Regions from separate parts of the Homo sapiens genome. Here region 2 is linked to region 1. Evidence: fine-mapped expression QTL. A gene starts in region 1. The other region holds a variant in brackets. All regions are shown on one strand. Distances are between the middles of the regions.

Region 1 (2,905 bases):
TCAGGACCTCGTGGACATCCTGCAGGGCCACATGGTGGCCCCGCTGTGATCTGGGGTCACCCTCTCCAGCAAGAGAACCCCGTGGGGTTATGTATCAGAAGAGAGGGGAAGAAACACTTTCTCTTCTTGTTTCTCCTGCCCACTGCTGCAGTAGGGGAGGAGCACAGTTTGTGGCTTATAGGTGTTGGTTTTGGGGGTGTGAGTGTTTGGGGGACGTTTCTCATTTGTTTTTCTCACTCCTTTTGGTGTGTTGGACAGAGAAGGGCTCCTGCAGGCCACAGCCACCTAAACGGTTCAGTTTCTTCTGCGCCTCAGGCTGCTGGGGCCTCAGACGAGACCCAAGGGCAGAGCATTTAAGAGTGAAGTCATGACCTCCAGGGAGCCTAGAAGCTGGTGGCCTTGGCCGGCTGTGCTCAGAGACCTGAAGTGTGCACGTTGCTTCAGGCATGGGGGGTGGGGGGAGCGTCCCAAATCAATAAGAAGGTAGAATGAGTTATGAGTTATTCATATTCTGTTGGAAGCTTGTTTTCCAGTCTCTTGTACAGCGTTTTAAAAGAAATGGATTCTATTTATTATGCTTTATTGGAAAAAATGTTGTAATAATTTAATGTTTTTACCCATTAAATTAAGACTTGTGCATGATCACAGCACGGGTGGCTTCTGATTTTTGAGTCTGGGATGGAGAGTTACACATCCCGGATGTTGATGGGGATGAGGACGGGGGTCGCGGATCGTGGATGTGGTGGGTGAGGGGAGAGAATAGTAATTCCCAGGGCGCCAGGGTGAGTGAGCTGGGTGGGGCAGCGGTTTTCGCTGTCGGAACGGAAGGGAAGCAGGAAACCGCGAGTGGAGAAAGGGCCCCCAGATGTCAGCTGGGTGCCCGGAGCACAGGGGGTGGGGCGGGTGGGCGGTGGCCGCGGCCTTCCCCGCAGGGGCGTAGCCGTGGGCGGTGACTGCGGTGATGAGGCGAAAGGGATCCCGGAAAAGCCAGGGGCGGGGTTAGCAGCGGTACGCCTCGTTTACAAGTGGATGCGGGCGGGACTGAGGGCGGCCCCGCCCCGTCCAGGGCTTCCTCAATGCGCGTGCGCAATGGGCCACAGAACCGCCATGCCGGAACCGCGCGGGTCGTCGCAGCTGCGGGTGAACGCGGCGTTTGCCGCGCGGTACAACCGCTACCGGGAGCGCGAGGAACTGCAGCGGCGTGAGTGCGGGGCGCATGCGCGCGGGAGCCTGCGCGCGCCGGCCGGTTGGGAAGTGGGGAGTCGAGTGGCCCCGCCGGCTGACCTGGGGGGGGGCATCCCGTCTGTGTCCCGCAGTGAAGGATCGCTACGGGGACCGAGACAGCAGCAGCGACTCCAGCTCCGAGTCGGACTCAAGCGACGAGCGCGTGGTGCGCGTCCCCGCCCCGTCCTGGACGTGCGGAGGCGTCCAAGCCCCCCTCTGCACCCCGACCCCGATGTAGACGGGGGGGAACCCCCAACCCCAGAGCGCCCTGCGGGAGCGTCCCATCCTCCGCTCCCCATCCCATGAGGGACAGACAGTGCCCCCCCTCTCCCCAGGGGAGCCAAATCCCCGTTATTTTCTCTCCCCTGCCACGATCCCCACCTGCCCACTCTGATGTGTGGGGCGACTCTGTCCCCCAAGAACCCCCCCTTTCCTCTTTCATCCTCAAGAGTCTAGCCATTTTTTAGTGTACTCCTTGCGCCACGTGGGGCGCCCAACTTCTCACATCAGCCCTGATCCTGGCCCCACTGTGCGGCCTGGCCCAGCCCCTCCCCGCTGTCTCTCTTGTGCCCTCAGCCCACCTGCCCCTTGTCAAGTCTTTGTCTTCCCCAGGAATTACCTTCTCCTTGCCCCTCACCTTCCTCTACCCATATCCTGTACCTACCTGTGGCCTGCCCCTGCCCACCCCAAGAGGGCCCCTCTCCCTCCTGCTGTTTGACCACCTGTTTGACCTCCCCAGCCAGATCCACCCCCCTCCATCCTAATCCCTACGCTGAGCTCACCTGCTGGCGCCAGGGCTCTTATTATCTCCCTTCTGAAATCTATCCCCAACCCTTTTCCTGCCCTAGGAATTTGATCCCCAGCAGGAGCGGGACTTTTACAAAACGCTCTCCTTGTTGAAGAAGAAGGACCCCCGCATTTATCAGAAAGATGCCACCTTCTATAACAGAACAGGTCCGGGGCCACTCCTGTCTAAACCTCTCCTTCCTCTGGAGCAGAATCCGGGGTCCTTTCCTGACTGTGGATTCAGAGAAGTGACTTGACTTCTCTGAGCCTCTTTTCCTGTCTGTAAAGTATATCTAACGGTAGCATCTCCCCTCAGGGCTGTTTTAAGGATAGATTGGGATTTACCCAGTTTACACAGTTCATCTGTTTTGACTATTGAATGAATTGCTTCACAAGTCACAAGTCCTTAGCAGAGCCTAGGTTATTACCTGGTGGTGGAGTTAATGACTGTGTCCTTGGCACTATTCAAGGTGGGAATTGCTGACTGAATGATTCCAACTCCACCAGGCTGGGCAGGTGGTTCAAGCATCTAATCCCAGCACTTTGGGAGGCTGAGGTGGGAGGGTCAATTGAGGCCAGGAGTTTGAGACCAGTTTGGCCAACATAGCAAGACCCCATTTCTCTTTTTTTTTTTTTGAAATGGAGTTTCACTCTTGTTGCCCAGGCTGGGTTGCAATGGGACGATCTCAGCTCACTGCAACCTCCGTCTCCCAGGTTCAAGCGATTCTCCTGCCTCAGCCTCCTGAGTAGCTGGAATTACAGGCACGCGCCACCACGCCCAGCTAATTTGGGATTTTTAGTAGAGACAGGGTTTCTCCATGTTGGCCAGGCTGGTCTCGAACTCCCAACTTCAGGTGATCCGCCCACCCTGGCCTCCCAAAGTGCTGGGATTACA
Region 2 (2,905 bases), 57 kb after region 1:
ATAAAAGGCTCCAGACGTGCTGGCCCCTGCCCCCGGCATGTCCCCAGGCGCATTCTTGACCCCTGAACGGCTGGATGGGCCCTGGGGCCGGGTTGGGGGGCGTCTGGCTTCGGGTTCAGACTGCAGCGCTCCACCTTCCGGGAAACCTTGGAACTGCAGGCAACCTCAAAAAAAGCGGTGTTTTGGGGACAGGTGTCCCAGACTGGGGGGACCCCAAGTCCCTGCTGGCCACGTTCAGAGTGCCCCTGGAGGCCACACACACGGGAAACCAACCAGTTGGAACACAGGCACACTTGCTTATGAGTTTTCTAGAAAATTTAAAAAGCATCCAGTTCAGCCAGGCGCAGTGGACTCATACCTGTAATCCCAGCACTTTGGGAGGCCGAGGCGGGCGGATCACCTGAGGTCAGGAGTTTGAGACCAGTCTGGCCATCATGGGGAAACCCCGTCTCTACTTAAAATACAAAATTAGCCGGGCATGGTGGCGTGCACCCGTAATCCCAGCTACTTGGGAGGCCAAGGCAGGAGAATCACGTGAACCCAAGAGGCAGAGGTTGCAGTGAGCCGAGCTCATGCCATTGCTCTTCAGCCTCGGCAAAAAGAATGAAACTCCATCTCAAGAAAAAAAAAAAAGCACGCAGTTCCCCTTCCTTGTGGCGATCACAGTGGGACTCCTGGGGACCTTCCAGAGCTAGTCTGTGGATTCACCTTGCCAAAATGAAATGTAAATACACCTCCTGTCTTTTTGTACAAATTTATCACTGTTCTGCATGTTGCTTTGTTGACTTAACAGTATATCTTGGCAGGGCATGTTGGCTCACGCCTGTAATCCTAGCATTTTGGGAGGCTGAGGCAGAAGGATCATTTGAGCCCAGTAGTTGGAGATAGGCCCACACAACATAGGGAGACCCAGTTTCTAGAAATGATTCAAAAATCACCCAGGTGGGCCGGGCATGGTGGCTCATGCCTGTAATCCCAGCACTTTGGGAGGCCAAGGCGGGAGGATTACTTGAGGCCAGGAGTTAGATACAAGCCTAGCCAACATGGTGAAACCCCGTCTCTACTAAAAATGCAAAAAATAGCCAGGCGTTGTGGCAGGTTCCTGTAATCCCAGCTACTCAGGAGGCTGAGGCATGAGAATTGCTTGAACCCAGGAAGTAGAGGTTGCAGGGAGCCGAGATCATGCCACTGCACTCCAATCTGAGTAACAGAGTGAGACACTATCTAAAAAAAAAAAAAAAATCACCCGGGCACAGTGGCACATGCCTATGGTCCCAGACACTGGGGAGGCTGGAGTGGGAGGATCGCCTGAGCCTGGGAGGTCAAGGCTGCAGTGAGCTATGATTGTACAATTGCACTCCAGCCTGGGTGATACAGCAAGACCTGTCTAAAAAATTTTTTTGAAAAGTATATCTTGCAAAAATATTGCACACCCACACATTTTCTTGTTTGTTTGGTTTTTGAGATAGGGTCTTGCTGTGTTGCCCAGGCTGGAGTGCATTTGACACAATTATGGCCCACTGCAGCCTCCACCTCTCAGGCTCAAGCAATACTACTCCTGCCTCAGCCTCCCGTGTAGTAGCTGGGACCAAATATCCCCACACCACACCTGGCTCACAACCACAGAGCTCAAAACCACAACA[C/G]AGCTCACAACCACACACAGCTAATTTTTTTTTTTTTGAGGCTGGTCTCAAACTCCTGAGCTCAAGTGATTCACCTGCCTCGGCCTCCCAAGTGCTGGGATTACAGACATGAGCCACAGCGCCTGGCAATACCCACACATTTTGTAATGTCTTGCTCTTAGTCAGCTTGGACTGCATAACAAATACCCTAGATGGGGTGGCTTAAGTCCCAGTAATTACTTTTGCATCGTTCTGGAGGGTAGGAAGTCCAATATCAGAATGGCAGCCTGGGGCCGGACACTGTGGCTCACGCCTGTAATCCCAGCACTTTGGGAGGCCCAGGCAGGCGGATCACCTGAGATCAGGAGTTCGAGAACAGCCTGGCCAACACGGTGAAACAGCTGTCTCTACCAAAAATACAAAAAAAAAATTAGCTAGGCGTGGTGGCAGGTGCCTGTAATCCCAGCTACTGGGGAGGCTAAGGCAGGAGAACTGCTTGAACTCAGAAGGTGGAGGTTGCAGTGAGCTGAGATCGCGACATTGCACTTCAGCCTGGATTACAGAGCGAGACTCTGTCTCGGAAAAAAAAAAAAAAAAAAAAAAAAAAAAAGGCCAGGAGCAGTGGCTCGCGCCTGTAATCTCAGCACTGAGGCCGAAGCAGGTGGATCACGAGGTCAGGAATCTGAGACCAGCATGGCCAACATGGTGAAACCCCGTTGCTACTAAAGATACAAAAAATTACCTGGGTGTGGCGGCATGCGCATGTAATCCCAGCTACTCCGGAGGCTGGGGCAGAAGAATCGCTTGAACCCAGGAGTCAGGGGTTGCAGTGAGCGGAGATCACTCCACTGCACTCCAGCCTGGGCGACAGGGCGAGACATGGTCTCAAAAAAAGAGAATGTCAGCATGGTTGTGTTCTAGTGAGGACTCTCTTCTGAGCTTGCAGACAGCCGCTTTCTCACTGTGTTCCCACATGTTGGGGAAAGAAACAGAGAGCAGGTCGGGCGAGGTAGCTCATGACTATAATCCCAACACTTTGGGAGACTGAGGCAGGTGGATCAACTGAGGCCAGGAGTTCAAGATCAGCCTGGCCAACATGGTGAAACCCCATCTCTACTAAAAATACAAAAATCAGCTGGGTGTGGTGGCACACATCTGTAACTCCAGCTACTCAGGAGGCTGAGGCAGGAGAATTGCTTGAACCTGTAAGGCGGAGGTTGTAGTGAGTGGAGATGGCACCACTGCATTCCAGCCTGTCTCAAAAAAAAAAAAAAAAAAAAAAA

What was found. PIP is the estimated chance that this variant, and not a neighbour inherited with it, causes the effect.
Region 2: its variant is the best candidate, but not a certain one, in a credible set for the expression of KRI1 in whole blood (TOPMed, PIP 0.77).

Annotation. Positions count from the first base shown.
Region 1 is chr19:10,564,202-10,567,106 of GRCh38, reverse strand. KRI1 (KRI1 homolog) reads left to right here and starts at 1,097. Exons shown (of 19, transcript NM_023008.5): 1 at 1,097-1,201; 2 at 1,317-1,390; 3 at 2,073-2,178. The coding sequence starts at 1,108. CDKN2D (cyclin dependent kinase inhibitor 2D) reads left to right here. Exons shown (of 2, transcript NM_001800.4): 2 at 1-647. The coding sequence ends at 49. RefSeq lists a silencer at 827-1,356 and enhancers at 857-1,424, 1,627-1,676, 1,425-1,992.
Region 2 is chr19:10,507,638-10,510,542 of GRCh38, reverse strand. No RefSeq gene overlaps it. Among named protein-coding and RNA genes, the nearest start is that of KEAP1, 5.7 kb to the right of the region's middle. The variant C/G (reference allele first, on the strand shown) is at 1,644.